Linked DNA regions of Homo sapiens: region 1 is linked to region 2. Evidence: fine-mapped expression QTL. A gene starts in region 2. The other region holds a variant in brackets. All regions are shown on one strand. Distances are between the middles of the regions.

Evidence for each region. PIP is the estimated chance that this variant, and not a neighbour inherited with it, causes the effect.
Region 1: its variant is fine-mapped to the expression of UNC13D in whole blood (INTERVAL, PIP 0.98).

What each region holds. Positions count from the first base shown.
Region 1 is chr17:75,915,237-75,923,812 of GRCh38, reverse strand. It overlaps FBF1 (Fas binding factor 1), which reads left to right. Exons shown (of 30, transcript NM_001319193.2): 14 at 172-627; 15 at 1,767-1,868; 16 at 2,253-2,341; 17 at 2,511-2,569; 18 at 3,384-3,539; 19 at 3,706-3,806; 20 at 3,939-4,145; 21 at 5,544-5,651; 22 at 5,743-5,882; 23 at 5,963-6,081. Among named protein-coding and RNA genes, the nearest start is that of MRPL38, 15 kb to the right of the region's middle. RefSeq lists an enhancer at 1,507-2,706. The variant G/A (reference allele first, on the strand shown) is at 4,041.
Region 2 is chr17:75,839,319-75,847,894 of GRCh38, reverse strand. It overlaps UNC13D (unc-13 homolog D), which reads left to right and starts at 3,491. Exons shown (of 32, transcript NM_199242.3): 1 at 3,491-3,674; 2 at 4,376-4,411; 3 at 4,629-4,736; 4 at 4,822-4,881; 5 at 4,972-5,038; 6 at 5,282-5,462; 7 at 6,894-6,938; 8 at 7,065-7,133; 9 at 7,319-7,388; 10 at 7,566-7,670; 11 at 7,785-7,877; 12 at 7,953-8,056. The coding sequence starts at 3,558. WBP2 (WW domain binding protein 2) reads left to right here. Exons shown (of 8, transcript NM_012478.4): 5 at 1-99; 6 at 286-408; 7 at 911-987; 8 at 1,108-2,196. The coding sequence ends at 1,161. RefSeq lists enhancers at 2,552-2,641, 2,772-2,851, 3,270-3,974 and silencers at 3,082-3,241, 3,252-3,311, 4,162-4,221.

The sequences.
Region 1 (8,576 bases), 76 kb before region 2:
TCTACAGACAGCACGTGGCCTGCCACCTGAGCCGGTCCAGGAGCCACTGCTCACTGGGCCTCAGCTGACTGTGCAGGGTCCCTGGGCATCGTGACGCCCAGCTGCAGGCTGCTAGGGGGCCACTGGGACTGGCTGTTTCCCCTGCCTGACACCCTCCTTTCTGTCTTGAAGTAGGTTCTTCGCAGACAGTGGCGCAGACCCCAAGGGAGAACCAGGCTCCAAACAGAGCCCTCCAATGGCTTCCAGCCCCATCCAGCCCAGGAAGGGAGGAGCTGACTGGTTGGGCCTCAAGGACGAGGACTTGGACCTGTTCCCTGCCTCACCCACCAGAGAGGCCCATCGGGAAAGTTCAGTGCCTGTCACGCCCTCAGTGCCTCCTCCTGCGAGCCAGCACTCCACGCCAGCTGGGCTGCCCCCCTCCAGGGCAAAGCCACCAACTGAAGGTGCAGGGTCCCCTGCCAAAGCCAGCCAGGCTTCCAAGCTGCGAGCCTCCAAGGAGGAGAAAGAGGACTGGCTGAGCCATGCCCTGTCTCGGAAGAAGTCCCAAGGCCTGGCCAGAGAGCAGCATGCTGGGACCTCTGAGGGCCTGCATTTGGCGGGGACAGCGGGCCATCCCCCTTCTGGCAGGTACTGACTTAGGCTGCTGTGGCTAGTAGGGGGAGGACTGGCTGGGGACTTGAGGAGCCCCTTTGCCCCTTCACCTGTTGCAGCCTCAGTCAGCAGTTGGGGAACAAGGCAGGGCGCCGTGGCCACAGAGGCCGCTTCTTGGCTTTGCTACTCTGCCTTTTAGGCACTGCAGAGAGAGCCTCTGGCTCCCAGGCTTGCCCCAGGGACATACCCAAGAAGGAGGGCTGTTGACATTCATGCCCTGACCGCCATGGGGACAGGTGCTAACTTGATCGAGGAGAAGACAGAGGGTCCCTGAGGTGGCAGACACACCGCTGCCCTGTCACAGCGCCCTCAGGCTGGAAGCCCCGGCATCCAAACAGCCGGTGCTTCTGCCGACTCCACTGAAGCGAGTATGGCGTGTGTGAGCTGAGATGTCCCTGTGCTCTTTGAGAGTGTTAGAGGAGACATAGTGGCCGAGAGGCGCCTCTTGGAGAAGCCCTTATCCGTGGGGCAGGATAGCGAGTGACCTCTGAAGGCAGGAAGGCACAAGGGGCCAGCAGGCTGGGGGAGTCCAGAGGAAGTGGTGAGATGTGCTGTGGCCAGAGCCCAGGGGAGTGAACTGGGCAATTTGTGACAGCCCAGGGACATCACCCTGTCCTGGGGTTGATGACAGGAGGGCAGTTTTGACTTTGACCTGAGGCCGAGGGGAAAGCTCAGGCCAAAACAGAAAAGAGCCTGTCTCTTCACTGACCCGTGAGCCGAGAAAGAGGTGGAAATAATGGGAAAGGGAGCCAGCCAGATTTGGTAGACTGAGCAGAATCCTAATCTAGAGCTGAGCCAAGTTAAGTGGACTGGAACAGGGCTCTGAACTTGAACTTGACTCCAGTGTCTATAACATTTCCGTTGTCACTGCTTGGACAGTGTCCATTCACTGCACCACTGTGGACATTGAGGCAGGAAGGGGGTACTGGAAGGGAAGAGATGCCCAGAAATCCCAGGAGCTCAGACGTGGGAGGAGAATGCCCCAAGACGGGATGGTGGAAGCAGGAGGAAGGGGGGCCACGAGCTTCACGTGTGAAGCCCGTCCTGGGCCCTGTCTTCATCCAGCCTGACCTGGGCCTTCTGTCACCTTCACCTTGAACGCTGCCTTTCCTCAGCCAACCTCTCACCAGCACACAAGGGCTTGAGCACGCAGCTGCTGGAGGGAGTTCTGGAACAACTGCACGAGAAAGACCGTGTGTCAGGCCTGGTGTCTCGGGGTAGGCCTGGGCTGCGGGCTGAGTGGGAATGAGAGCATGGTGGGCAGCACAGGCCTCTGTCCTGAGAGAGGGACACAGAGGCTGTTCACCCTGCCCCTGCCCCGTCCCCGTGTCCCACACAGAGGCTGCCCACCCTGCTCCGTCCCTGTGCCCTACACAGAGGCTGCCCACCCTGCCCCATCCCCGTGTCCCACCTAGAGGCTGCCCACCCTGCCCCGTCCCCGTGTCCCAGCAGAGGCTGCCCACCCTGCCCCATCCCCGTGTCCCACGTAGAGGCTGCCCACCCTGCCCCGTCCCCATGTCCCACCTAGAGGCTGCCCACCCTGCCCCGTCCCCGTGTCCCACACAGAGGCTGCTCACCATGCCCCATCCCTGTGTCCTCAGGTCCCCTGTGACTCAGAACCATGCCGCCTCAGCACTCCCTACAGGTTCCCCAAAGAGGGGAACAGCCCCTGGAGACCTCTCAGCCACTGGTTTGTTTTTTGTTTGCTGCTTCATTTGGGAGTTTAACCCTGGGTGAGGAAGAGGTGCTTTGAGCTTCCTTTGGGGTCCCTGGGACATGAGTTACACCAGCCCCTCCTGGACACTCGCAGGCCCAGTGCCCTGGGCCTCCTGTTCATTTCTCTGTTGTTGATGTTTCAGAGCCTGCCACGTGTTTCCCGAGCACCCAGAAACCCACAGAGCCTTCCGTGCCCGTCCAGGTAGGGGTGTGGGCAGACAGGTCTAGCTCAGGGCCTAGGGAGCAATTCTCCATGCCCAGGGGCAATACCCACAGTTTGACCTGACGACCTGCCAGGAAAAATGTGTCAAACATACCAAATGTGACGTCAGCCAGCTCCCCGGGCACCCCCCACTAGAACTTGCCTGAATTTCTAGCCTCGCTGCTCCTGGGCAGAGCTGGGTGTTAATTTGCCTACATCAGTGGGGAGTTTAAGGAGGCAGCCAGGCCGGGGAGCTGGGATGCTGCAGTCAGAAAGCAGGGCCGCAGGGTCCTGTTCTGTCAAGAAAGCCTCCTCCACCCTTGCCATCCTCCCACCACACCTCTGCCTCTGTTTCCCATGTGTGGCAGTCACCTGTGACACCTGGGCCTGGGAGGTGTGCCCCCCCCCCCCCCAGGAGTGTGTCCCTGGGAGATGGTGGGTAGGGGACAGCTCGTGGGAACCAGATTAGTGTCAACATGTGGGCTTCAGGCCTGACAGGAAAAGCCAGCATCAGCTTTTGTCATAGCGAAGACTCTGCTGGGGTTCAGCCATTTGTCTGGGAAGCCGGAGACCATGCTGGGGAGGAAGCTGTTCCGGAGGGTGGAGGGAGACATGCTCCTGACCAGATCTGCAAGGGGAGGTACACTGGGGACTGCTTAGCCGCAGTGACTGTTACTTTCCAAGGCCTTGGCCCCATCTGCAGCCACAGATCAGATGCAGGGAGGTCCAGTGAGCAGTGGGCCAGGAGGTAGCTGATCTCAGCTGGGCCCCTGTCCCCTCCCTAACTAGAAACACCTCTCTTCCTCTCCTCCAGCCCCTGCTCCCAGAGTCCCTGGCCCGGAGCCTGCTGCCGAGCACAGAATACCAGAAGCAGCTCCTGGCAGCACAGGTGCAACTTCAGTGCAGCCCCGCTGAGCTCCAGGCCGAGCTGCTGCATAGCCAGGCCCGGCTGGCAGAGCTGGAGGCCCAGGTGAGGGGCAGCGGGGCCGTTGGTGCTGGTGGCAGGGTTGCGACAGGAGGGGACACTGAGAGTGGCTGGAAGCTTCCCCAGGAGGGAGGAAGGGCTGTTGGCACAGGGCAGCGTGGAGTACAGCCACCTCCCCTCCCTGGTTGCTGGCCCTCCTGCTGTCTCCCAGGTGCGGAAGCTGGAGCTAGAACGGGCCCAGCATGAGCTGCTGCTGGGGAGTCTGCAGCAGCAGCACCAGGCAGACCTGGAGCTCATCGAGAGTGCACACAGGTACCCTGGCGCTGGCCCCAGCTCTGCCTTGGATCTCACACTGACCCCAAAGGCCACCCAGTGTGCCTGGAGAGGCCTTTAGGCGGCAGCCCTCTGCCTTCCTTGCGCCATGGCTGGGTGTTCTGTTGGCAGAAGCCGCATCAAGGTGCTAGAAACATCGTACCAGCAACGGGAGGAGCGGCTCCGGAGAGAGAACGAAGAGCTGTCAGCTCGGTATCTGTCGCAGTGCCAGGA[G/A]GCCGAACAGGCCCGTGCTGAGCTTACGGCCCAGCACCAGCGGCGCTTGGCGGCCATAGCGCAGGAGAAGGACCAGGAAATGGAGCGGCTCCGGGAGCTGCAGCGGTGAGGCCCAGGGACAGGCAGCTGGGGAGCAGGCTTGCAAGGAGTAGCCGGAAGAGAGCCATCCCCACGAGACCCTTCGCTGTGGCTCAGCAGCCTTTGGACAGGGGTTGGGTCCTTCCCTCCCAGTCCAGTGAGTGAGGACTGAGGGCTGAGCACACTGACCCATCACACCCATGGGTGGGGGTGCCACCTGCTCTTACAGAGGCAGGAGGGGGTACCCACAGGCTGTTCAGGCATGGCATGGCAGCAGCAAGCCGCCTAGGGTCTAACTAAGCACAGGGTCATCCACTCGCCTGCTCATGCAGTAGAGGCTAGAAACAAGATCCACCTGGGAAAGGCTTGCGCTGTTGTGCCTGCCATGTTTATAGGGTTGCCTTTCTAGAAGAGAAGGAAACTAAGAAAAGTTACCTAAGGGAGTCAGAGGTCGATGAAGGCAGAGGCAGCCTTTTAAGACTGCTCAGGGCCGGGTGCAGTGGCTCACACCTGTAATCCCAGCACTTTGGGAGGCCGAGGTGGGAGGATCACTTGAGGCCAGGAGTTTGAGACCAGTCTGGGCAACACAGTGAGACCTCATCTCTAAAAACAATTTTTAAATAAGCTGGCATGACAGCTACTCCTGTAGTTCCAGCTACTTGGGAAACTGAGGCAGGAGGATACCTTCAGCCCAAGAGATCAGGGCTGCAATGAGCTATGATGCCACTGCACTCCAGCCTGGACCACAGAACAAAACCCTGTCTCTAAAAACATTTAAAAAACAAAACACTTGGGAGGCCAAGGCAGGAGGATTGCTTGAGGCTAGGAGTTCAAGACCAGCCTGGGCAACATAGTGAGACCTCATCTCTAGGAAAAAAAAAAAAAAAAAGAAAGACTGCTTGGGGCCGGGCGTGGTGGCTCACACCTGTAATCCCAGTGCTTTGGGAGGCCAAGGTGGGTAGATTGCCTGAGCTCAGAAGTTCGAGACCAGCCTGGGCAACACGGTGGAAACCCCATCTCTACTAAAATATAAAAAATTAGGCGTGGTGAGCGCCTATAGTCCCAGCCACTCGGGAGGCTGAGGCAGGAGAATTGCTTGAACCCAGGAGGCAGAGGTTGCAGTGAGCCGAGATCATGCCACTGAACTCCAGCCTGGGCGACAGAGTGAGAGACTCTGGGTGACAGAGCAAAACTCCATCTCCAAAAAAAGAAAAGCTGAATAATGGGAGGAATGCCCATCTTAGTGCGTGTAGCATTGAGGCACCATGACAGATAAGACAGAGGAGCTGGGGAAACTGAGGCAGTGCCCGGCGGAGGAGAGGCCTGGGAGCAAGGGCTGCACGGAAACACACCCTTCCACAAGGAGTTACCGCATCAGGGTGATCCAGCTCAGAGTGACCGCCTTCCCCTCCCGCCTCCCCTCAGGGCGTCCATCCTAGACATGCGCAGAGACCACGAGGAGCAGCTGCAGCGGCTAAAGCTGCTGAAGGACCGAGAGGTCGATGCGGCCACCAGTGCCACCTCCCACACGCGGTATGTGCGCTGCCCCAACCATGCCCGCCTGACGTTGGGGGCCGGAAGGTCCCCGAGACCGTCAGGAGGGGGTGACCCAGTCTTCTTCCAGGTCCCTGAATAGCATCATCCACCAGATGGAGAAGTTCTCCAGCAGCCTGCACGAGTTGTCCTCCCGCGTGGAGGCCTCGCACCTCACCACCTCCCAGGAGCGGGAGCTGGGGATCCGGCAGCGTGACGAGCAGCTGCGGGGTACGCCCTCCCCTCTCAGCCACCCCGGCTCCTGGTGGGAAGGGGGAGCAGCTGCTGAGCACCCTGTGGGTTGCCCCCAGCACTGCAGGAGCGGCTGGGCCAGCAGCAGCGGGACATGGAGGAGGAGCGGAGCCGGCAACAGGAGGTCATCGGGAAGATGGAGGCACGGCTGAATGAGCAGAGCCGGCTGCTGGAGCAGGTGAGGCCCGTCCTCCTGGCCCTCCTGCCCCTCCTGCCACGGGGCCTCTTCTCCAGGGCACCCGCAAGTGTAGCGGCACTCCCGTGACCTCACTTCCTCAGGAGGTCAAGGCCCCACCTGCCGCTTCCTGCCTCTACATCTCCCTGCCCTGGCCAGGCTCTCAGCACTGCCCACCTGAGCATGCAGGGGCCGCCTGGCCAGGCCCCCCACCACGCCCTGTCCGCTCCTCAGCACCGCAAGCCCCTCGGCCACCTTGGCTGCCCTCCGCAGTCTAGCCCCCGCAACCATCAGCTGCACTTCCCACTTCCTGACACTCGAATCTGTCACATTAGCTGAGGCCTGACATTGGGACAGATGCTCTTGCCCATTAAATGTCATCCTAGCCTCTTCAGCTCTCACAGAGACATTTGAATTCCCTAGATACCTTTCATATATAAGCACATGCTTTATTTAAATAATGATGACCTTAGCCAGGCACAGTGGCCTGTGCCTATAATCCCAGCTACTTGGGGGGCTGAGGCAGCAGGATCACTTAAGGCCCAGAATTTGAGACCAGCCTAGCGAGACCATAAATAAATTTTTTTATGCCAGGCAAGTTGGCTCATGCCTGTAATTCCAGCACTTCAGGAGTCCAAGGCTGGAGGATCACTTGAGGTCAGGAGTTCGAGACCAGCCTGGCCAACATGGTGAAACTAAAAATAAAGAAATAAGAAACTAGCCAGGCGTGGTGGCGCACGCCTGTAATCCCAGCTACTAGAGAGGCTGAGGTGGGAGAATCGCTTGAATCTAGGACACAGAGGCTGCAGTGAGTGGAGATCATAACATGGCACACCAGTCTGGTTAACAGAGCGAGACTCTGTCTCAAAAAAATAAATAATAAAAACATTTAAATTTTGTTTTAATTAACTGGGTGTGGTGGTGCACACCTGCAGTCCCTGCCTTTGCTCACATCCTTTTCCTTACCTGTGGAAATCTTTCTAGGCTGAATTCAATGGTAATGAATCTTTCGATGCTACCACCTCCACAAAGCCTTCCTTGTCCTCCCACCTATCTTTTTGTCCTCAGCTAGTAGTTATCATCTTCTAAGGTTTTACAAAGCACTGTTATTTTTTAGAGACAGGGTCTTGCTCTGTTGCCCAGGCTGGAGTGCAGTGGTGTGATCATAGCTCACTGCAGCCTGACCTCCTTGGCTTAAGCCATCCTCCTGCCTCAGCTTCCTGAGTAGCTGGGACTACAGGCGCAAACCACCACACCCAGCTAATTGTGTATTTTTTACTGAGATGTGGGTCTTGCCATGTTGCCCAGGCTGGTCTTGAACTCCTGGGCTCAAGCAATCTGCCCACTTAGGCCTCCCAACATTTTGAGAGTACAGGTGGGAGCCACCATGCCTGGCCAAAAAAAAAAATTTTTTTTAGAGATGGGGTCTCACTGTCACTCAGGCTGGAGTGCAGTGGCAAGATCTCAGCCCACTGCAGCTTGAACCTCCTGGGCTCAAGCAATCTTCCCACCTCAGCTGCCAAGTAGCTGGGATCACAGGTGCATGCCACTATACCCAGCTAATTTTTTGTATTTTTTGTAGAAACGGGGGTTTGCCATGTTGCCCAGGCTGATCTCAAACTCCTGAGCTCAGACAAGCTGCCCACTTTGGCCTCCCAAAGTGCAGGGATTACAGGCGTGAGCCACCATGCCCAGCCAAAAACTTTTTTTTTTTTTTTTTTTTTTTTGAGTCAGAGTCTCGCTCTGTCACCCAGGCTGTAGTGTAGTGGCGCAATCTCAGCTCACTGCAAACTTCGCCTCCTGGGTTCAAGGGATTCTCCTGCCTCAGCCTCCTGAGCTACTGGGATTACAGGCAACTGCCACCACGCCCAGCTAATTTTTGTATTTTTAGTAGAGATGGGTTTCACCACGTTGGCCAGGCTGGTCTTGAACTCCTGACCTCAGGTGATCCACCCGTCTCAGCCTCCCAAAGTGCTGGGATTATAGGGCTGAGCCACTGTGCCCGGCCCAAAAAAATGTTTTTAAAGAAGAAAATAAAAATATCCCACTAGTCAGAGATGTCCACTGCTGACCTGATATCTATCCTGTAGCCATGTCAACGTAGATAGAGATGCTTTTATGTTGTGAAGCATTTTGATTCGCCTCTTCATTTGGTAACTGTGTTAAGCATCTGCCTGGGGTCAGGCACAGTGAAGCTCTCGCCTTGTGCTGTGTGTGGCTGGGCCCACAGCACAGCATTAAGCCACCCTGTGCTTAGCCTGCTTGGCTGATGGGTGAGGACAGGCAGAGTGCGTAGCTGGCGATTCAGCGGCAGGGATGTTGCTGCTCTTTGGCCCTCCCAAGCTGCTAGCCTTGGTGCTGTTGGAGACCTGAGGGTTGGGAGGGCACCTGCTGGGTCCTTCTCTTGGGCAGAATCGTGCGGGCTGGGCCCTGGCAGTGCCTCCCAGGCACCCCTCATTTTGTGCCTCTTTGGGAAGGACGTGTCAGTGGCATAGTGT
Region 2 (8,576 bases):
ACTCTTACATGCCCAGCGGGGCCTATGTCTATCCCCCGCCAGTCGCCAATGGAATGTACCCCTGCCCTCCTGGCTACCCCTATCCACCGCCCCCACCTGGTGAGTGTGTCCTTTGCTGCCCCCACTCCCCTCATGAGCCCACCTACCCAGGCTCCCCCCAGGCCAGGGAGACTTTATTCCTTGAGCTGCTTCAGGACCAACGAAGGAGCTGGAGAGGCCCCCCTCACCCGGGAGGGGGCCGCAGCCGGGTGCTCACCATGTCCTTGTTACTCTCTCACCGAGCAGAGTTCTATCCAGGACCCCCCATGATGGACGGGGCCATGGGATACGTGCAGCCCCCACCACCGCCCTACCCTGGGCCCATGGAACCTCCGGTCAGCGGCCCCGATGTCCCCTCCACTCCTGCAGGTGAGGGCCCTTGGGTGCTGGCAGCCCTTCGGGACCAGCCCTCTCCTCCCCGATGTCGCACAGAGAGCCTCAGAATGGCCAGAGACTGCTGAGAGCCGCAGATGATGGATGACCCCTGGACTACCCCAGGGGCCCAGCAGGGCTGTGGCCTGGTGGAGCGGAGCTAGATTCTGGCCCCACCCCCATCCCTTAGCTATCCATGTGCCCTGGGCGGGGAAGGTCACCCTGTGTGCCTCTCGATCCTCTCATCTACACTCAGCTGGTCGGTCACAGTGGCACCTGGGGCATTGGCTCAAGGATTAGATGAGGTGAGACATGCGATGGGCCTGGAAAGGACCGTGCCAGCGCGTGGCATGTGCTCAGGAAACCTCACCTGCTGCTCTCATTGGTGGAACTGGACCCCCAGCACCAGCTGCCCCGAGCCATGGGGGCCCGGGGTCTCTTAGCTGAGCTCAGGGGGAGGAGAACTTGTCACCGACACCAGGTGTGTTTGCTCTCACAGCCGAAGCCAAGGCCGCAGAAGCAGCCGCCAGCGCCTATTACAACCCAGGCAATCCTCACAACGTCTACATGCCCACGGTGAGAGGGCTTGGCAGTGCCGGTGCAGCCCCACAGCCGCAGATGCTGGGAGCCGCAGGGGGATGACCGCACCATGTTTTAAACCTTCTAATGCAAGTCTCTCCTTTCTCCCTTCTTTAGAGCCAGCCGCCGCCACCTCCCTACTACCCACCGGAAGATAAGAAGACCCAGTAGGCCCTCCTGCCTCCCTGCCTCCCACCCTCATCTCTCTACCCTACCCCTCCCATCGGGGCTGTGCTGGGGCTTGGGGAGGGGAGGGGGCGCCTTGTTCTCCCTCCAGGTCTGATCATAAACAATTACCAGGAACTAGCATTGTGGGACATTAGGGCCCCCGGCCTCGGGAGAGGTGCCGCCCAGCTTCCCATGCCAGCCCGGAGCCCACAGTGCTGCCCAGCGTACCTCCCTCACCGTCTGGGGCTCTTCTGGGAGCACGGAGCATCCCCTGTTCCTGTTTCACTCTCAGCTTCTCCCCTCGAAGGGACTCTCTGGCCACCTCCTCCACCGCAGTCCAGCTCCCTCAGTCTGGCACCCACTGCTACACTCAGCCTCATGAGCCACTTCAGACCAGCCAGGTGTCTTCCCGGGCCCTGCCAGACCCTGCTCACATTCCCTCTGCTGGTCTGTGCTGGTCTCAGAAGGCCACCGCGCCCGCATTCCACTCAGCCAGGGTCCAGCTGCAGCCCCCGCCACCCTTCCTTCCCTTCCCTGTCCTGGGTCATGTTGTTGCCACCCTGTGTGACTTTTGAAGCTGTAAAATGAGCTTCCAGGGCTTGGGTGGCGTCGGGGCAGGGCCGCCGAGGCTGGGAGGAAGCCCTTCTGCCTTTTGCTGGTGTTTCTGGAATTTGCTTTCCCTCACCTCTCACTTCCTTCTAGAAGGAGCTTCCTGACTGGAACCAGAGAATGCATGTCTGTCCACTTGGTGGCTGCTGGGTGGGGCCGGGAACAAGGGCCCCTGACCCTGTGTGCTGGCCGGGACCTGCCACCAGCCCCCCAGCCTGCTTCTTCCCCTTAAGCTTTGTGCCCCTGGATGCGCTAACATTCACTCTTGTTTGTCCCTGGACTGGCCATGAAGTGAGGAGATGGTTATTTAAAGAGAATTCCCTATTTATTTGACAAAAAATCCAGTTAATATATTAATGTGAAATAAACCCTGTTTGCACCTCGATTTGTTTGCTGAAAATGTGAAATAGTAAAAATGAAATAACTGGACCCTTTCTGGCTCTGCGTGTGGTGACCCGGGGGTCTCTTCCGGAAGGAGAGCCGTCTGGCCGCTGAGGGCCCTGGAGACTTCTGGGACGGTTCCCTCCCATGGGAGGATCCCCATTCTCACGGCCCAGCCAGCCTGTCTGGTCCCCAAGACAGCTCTGGCCTCTGGAGCTGGTTCTTAACGGTTGTCGCTCAGCAGCTGTGTCCCTCCCCCACTGAGTCCCCAGGGCCTGGCTGGGACAGAGGTGGATGTGGCCCAGAGTTGGCCTTGAAGGGAGGAGTTGGGGCTGCCACCTTGTCCCCTGCTGGCTCCTCGAGGAATGGCAGCCCTGGCCTAAGTCCTGGTTGCTGGAGGGAGGAGGCCGAGTCAGCCCTGGAGCACGTCAGGACCTGTGACAGGGACACTGAGGTAGCCAAGCCGGCTTGCCACCACCCACGTCACGTGCCCTGCTGTGAACTTGAAGGGACAGGAGGGTGGGAAATGGCCAAAGGCCGTGACCAGGCCCACACGCCCGCAAGTCCCCCAGCCCAGCACTGGGCACAGGGTGGGCAGGCCACAGAGCTCTAGGAAAGCCCCATGCTGAGGCGCATTTTCCTGTCCCCCGGGAGCCAAGTCTGTCCTCAGGAGAGATCGGGCAGCAGCCCCTCTGCCTCCTCCTCCTGGCCAGCCTGGCCCAGAGCTCTCTGGGACTTGGCTAAGCCCCCTTCAAGGGTGTCTGAAGGGAGCACTGTCCTGACTGCCAAGGTGGGGGCAGGGGCACAGGGCTGTCCCTGCCCAGCACAGCTTGGCCCCGTCATCTCCAAGGAATGTCACCTGTGGGGCCAGGCAGGCTGAGCAACTGGCTGTCCTCCAGGGAGACGCCTCTTGGGAGCCCCCACCCTGGGCGCCACCACACCCCACCCCACCCCGCCCCGCCCCACGTCTGGACGCACTCGAGGAAGTGGGGTGAGAACCCCCCCGGGCCCAGGTCAGCTTCTCTCAGGGTTCAGCCCAGCCTGGGCACAGCACATGGATGGGGCAGGATGCTGCCCGCCTGTTCTGGGCCCCCCCGCCCCCTGCTGAGAGCGTTGTCCCCTTCCCAGGGCCTCTGTAGGAGGGTGGGGCGGGGCCAGGCCTGCCCACGGGGTCCACCTTCTGCTCCAGCCAGAGGAGGGTCCTGTAGGGATCCCAGCTGGGGAAGGTGCAGGGGGCCTGGGAGACTGCCTCTCCGAAGCGGTGAAACCCTCACCCTTCCGTCCCTCCCAGCCACCCTCCCTAAAACTTCCCCTGACAGAGGGTGGCAGCCCCAGGCTCTTTGCATAATCCTGTGGCTTCGCTGTCTTCACCCAGCACCAGCGGACAGGGAAGGGCAGAGAAGGCCACCATGGCGACACTCCTCTCCCATCCGCAGCAGCGCCCTCCCTTCTTGCGCCAGGCCATCAAGATAAGGCGCCGCAGAGTCAGAGATCTACAGGATCCCCCGCCCCAAATGGCCCCGGAGGTAGGAGTGACCTCACTGGGGAGAGAGCTGGCCTTGGGGAGCACTGTGGTCTCGGGTACGGGTGCCCTGCTGTCTGGCCCCACCTCTCGAAGGCTGGGACTGGGGACCAGCGACCCTCCCCTGCCTACTCCACCCTGGGGAGAGCCCCCTGGGCCAGCAGAGCAGGGGCTGCCAGATGGACTCTGGGCCACTGTGGGCCTCAGGCCCTGTGGTCTGAGGCTCTCAGAACCCCTCCCTCCCGGTTGGCCTGACCCCATCCCCTACTCCTCCAGCTTCAGAAGAGCCGACTCCATTAGGTGGGGGTGTCCCTGCTGTGGGGTGAGCTGTTCGGGGAGCAGCAGACCCCCAGGCCGACGTGGCACCCCCCTCACCTCCGCTGCCGAGCCTCACTTCCGCTGCTGGGTGAGGAGCAGCCGCCACTGATAAGCAGAGCTGTTTCCTCTGGGGAAGGGAGGGAGGTGGGGTGCGGGTGCGGAGGGCTCGCGCTGCTGGGCACCCATGGACCTCAGCCACGGCGGGCCCAGGGACGGACCTCCAGGAGGCCTGCTGGGGGAACAGGTGCGGGGCATCACTGGGGCTGGAGGCCGGGGTGCTGGGGCCCCCATACCCTTGGCCTGGATCAGGCCTCAGAGGAGCCATTCCTGTCCATCTGAGCCTGCTCTGGGCCTCCCGGGACACTGCCTTTCCACCTTGCTCTGCAGATCCAGCCTCCATCCCACCACTTCTCCCCCGAGCAGGTAAGAGTCAGAGTGCTGGGGTGCAGAGAGGTGGGGAGGGCGGCTGTGTGTCCTCCTGCCGGCCGACGCTGATGGCAGCAAGCAACTTGCGGTGGGGAGGGGACTCCTGGGTCTCAACTCCCTCCGCTGCACAAGCCGCCCTTGTCCTGCCCATGGCGAGAGGTGTTGGTGCCAGGGGTGGCTGGTGGGGTCCCCAAGGTGACCCCGTGTGTCTTAGCGGGCCCTGCTCTACGAGGACGCACTCTACACTGTCTTGCACCGCCTGGGTCATCCTGAGCCCAACCATGTGACGGAGGCCTCTGAGCTGCTGCGATACCTGCAGGAGGTGAGCCCGGCTCCCACCCCACCCCCCTTCCTGCAGCTGCCCTGTCTGGTGCCCCCAGCCACCCACCCGCCTGCCTCCCCACCAGGCCTTCCACGTGGAGCCCGAGGAGCACCAGCAGACACTGCAGCGGGTCAGGGAGCTTGAGGTAACCTGGGGCCAGGGTCCCCCTGGGCAAGGAGGGGCCTGGGAAGCCCAGCCCCCTCAGGGACTCAGGCCATCCCTCCTGTCCCTCCAGAAGCCAATATTTTGTCTGAAGGCAACAGTGAAACAGGCCAAGGGCATTCTGGGCAAAGATGTCAGTGGTGAGCATGGGGTGGGGTCCCCAAGGGGCTTCTTCCTGGCTCCTTCCTCTCCCATCACAGCCTGGCCCAGGACTCTTGGCGGGAGCACCCACTTCCAAGAAGCCCTGTAGCGCTGGCCCCCCATGCTGCTGGTCCCCTTCCCTCTCCCCCGGAGGAGGCTCAGCCCCGGGCGGGGGTGATGAGGGCCTCTCCCAGGGACCCAGCCGACTCCCTGGCTGCCTCGTCTTCCCCACTCCTCCACAGGGTTCAGCGACCCCTACTGCCTGCTGGGCATTGAGCAGGGGGTAGGTGTGCCAGGGGGCAGCCCCGGGTCCCGGCATCGGCAGAAGGCTGTGGTGAGGCACACCATCCCCGAGGAGGAGACCCACCGCACGCAGGTCATCACCCAGACACTCAACCCCGTCTGGGACGAGACCTTCATCCTGTACGTGGCCGTGCTCCAGCCCCCACTCTATCCAGGTCTTTCCTGGGTAGCAGGGTCTGCCCCAGACAATGAGATGAGTAGGTCGTCCTGGCTCAGGGGAGGGGGTTTGGCCCTGGGCAAAGACTAGAGGAGAAGCCCATCTCCAGGCACGTTAGGTGGACAGTAGGTCAGATGGGACAGAACAAGATCAATGCCACACGTGCTGATGGGGCAAGGAGGGTCAGGCCCTTGTGGGTGAGTCTGGGGGTGCCTGAAGCTGTACCTGAAAGGAGGCAGGGATGGGTGCAGTGGTTCCCACCTGTAATCCCAGCACTTTGGGAGGCCAGGAGACTGAGACCAGCCTGGCCAACATGGCAAAACCCCATCTCTACTAAAAATACAAAAAAGGCCGGGCGTGGTGGCTCACGCCTATAATCCCAGCATTTTGGGAGGCTGAGGAGGGCAGATCATGAGGTCAGGAGATTGAGACCATCCTGGCTAACACGGTGAAACCCCGTCTCTACTAAAATACAAAAAATTAGCCGGGCGTGGTGGCAGGCGCCTGTAGTCCCAGCTACTCGGAAGGCTGAGGCAGGGGAATCGCTTGAACCTGGGAGGCGGAGGTTGCAGTGAGCCGAGATAGCACCACTGCACTCCAGCCTGGTGACAGAGCGACACTCTGTCTCAAAAAAAAAAAAAAAAATTAGTGGGGGCCAGGCGCAGGGACTCATGCCTGTAATCCCAGCACTTTTGGGAGGCCGAGGCAGGTGGATCACCTGAGGTCAGGAGTTTGAGACCAGCCTGGCCAACACAATGAAGGCCCACCTCTCCTAAAAGTACAAAAATTAGCCGGGCGTGGAGGTGCATGCCTGTAATCCCAGCTACTTAAGAGGCTGAGGCAGGAGAATCACTTGAACCCGGGAGGCGGAGGTTGCAGTGAGCCGAGATCACGCCACTGCACTCCAGCCTGGGTGACAGAGTGAGACTCTGTCTCAAAAAAAAAAAAAAAAAGGCTGGGCGCGGTGGCTCACGCTTGTAATCCCAGCACTTTGGGAGGCCTAGGCGGGCGGATCACGAGGTCAGAAGCTCAAGACCAGTGTGGCCAACACAGTGAAACCCCGTCTCTACTAAAAATACAAAAATTAGCCAGGTGTGGTGGCGGGCACCTGTAATCCCAGCTACTTGGAAGGCTGAGGCAGGAAAATTGCTTGAACCCAGGAGGCAGAGGTTGCAGTGAGTTAGATCCTGCCACTGCACTCCTCCAGCCTGGGGGACAGAACTAGACTCCATCTCAAAAAAAAAAAAAAAAAAAAAAAAAGGGATGCGGCTGGGAGGAGGGAAGTTTGGCAGGGATAGGCTACAACTCCATGGCTCTGGGCTGTGGTCACTTACTGCTTCGTCTGGGGGCATCCACCCTCCAGGGCCCTCAACCACGCCCTTTTCTCCATACAGGGAGTTTGAGGACATCACCAATGCGAGCTTTCATCTGGACATGTGGTGAGTGACCTGGCCTGCCCCTAGGGATGGGAAGGGAAGGGATCTGGGGTGAGAGAGGCGGAACCTCCTCCTGGAAGAGGTCGTAGGCACTCTCTCTGCTTCCTTCTCAAACCTCTGTCCTGCCAGGGACCTGGACACTGTGGAGTCTGTCCGACAGAAGCTTGGGGAGCTCACGGATCTGCATGGGCTTCGCAGGTTCGTGTTGCAGGGCTCACAGGGAAGGGGTTGGGGCTCCTTTTGCCCTCCATCCCCCAACATGCACACTGGATGCTGGGGTGCAGGCTCCTTTGGGGTCCAGGTGGCTGCGGCCGGGGGTGGATTCCAGCCTAATCCCTTCCGACCCTTGCTGCGTCCCCCTTATGGGACCCTGCCTGACGCAGGATCTTTAAAGAGGCCCGGAAGGACAAAGGCCAGGACGACTTTCTGGGGAACGTGGTTCTGAGGCTGCAGGTGAGGAGGATGAGGAAAGGGGCCCAGGAGCGAGGCAGAGGGAGGGGGTTGGGAGGGGTTCTGGGGAGAGGCTCTGTGTCCTCACAAAGCTGAGCCTGGGGTCCACCTCCTGTCGCCTCCGCTGCCCCGACTCTATGAGGTTCTGACGCTCACGGGCTGGGCATCCCCGCCTGTCAGGACCTGCGCTGCCGAGAGGACCAGTGGTACCCCCTGGAACCCCGCACTGAGACCTACCCAGACCGAGGCCAGTGCCACCTCCAGTTCCAACTCATCCATAAGCGGGTAGGTCGGGTACTGGGCCAGTGGCCATGCCCAGCTCTTGCGGCGGTCTGCTGGGTTGCGGGGCTGGCTGCACCCAGTGTGAGGCCCTGTCTGCTCACAGAGGCCTCATTGCAGAGAGCCACTTCGGCCAGCCGCTCGCAGCCGAGCTACACCGTGCACCTCCACCTCCTGCAGCAGCTTGTGTCCCACGAGGTCACCCAGCACGAGGTATTGCCCTCCTGGGGCTGGGCGCAGCCGGGGCTGCCCTTCAGGTCCTGACACTCCTCCACCTGCTCCCCTCAGGCGGGAAGCACCTCCTGGGACGGGTCGCTGAGTCCCCAGGCTGCCACCGTCCTCTTTCTGCACGCCACACAGAAGGACCTATCCGACTTCCACCAGTCCATGGCGTGAGTACACAGCCCTGGGCAGAACCCCTGAGCCACCAGCCCCCCACGCCCCCTGCCCTCCTCCAAGCCGGTAGCCCAAAGTGTAATTCTCAGCAGAGTTCCCTTTGGCCCAAAATGTGTGTTTTAAGTTTTGAATCAGTTGCCAATTTTAAAAAGTCTAGAGATTCGGCTGATGCGGTGGCTCACTCCTGTAATCCCAGGACTTTGGGAGGCTGAGGCAGGAGGATCACTTGAGCCCAGGATTTCAAGGCTGCAGTGAGCTATGATCACACCAACACTCCTGCCCGGATCACAGAGTGAGACCTCATTTCCAAAAAATATTAGAAAAAGCTATCTGGAGATTTGACATACCATCCAGATCTCCAGCTTCTCATGAAACACAAGTGCTGGAACTGCAGGGTCATCATTTTGCTGCTTTTTTTTTTTTTTTTTGAAACGGAGTTTCACCCTTGTTGCCCAGGCTGGAGTGGAATGGTGCAATCTTGACTCACTGCATGCAACCTCTGCCTTCCAGGTTCAA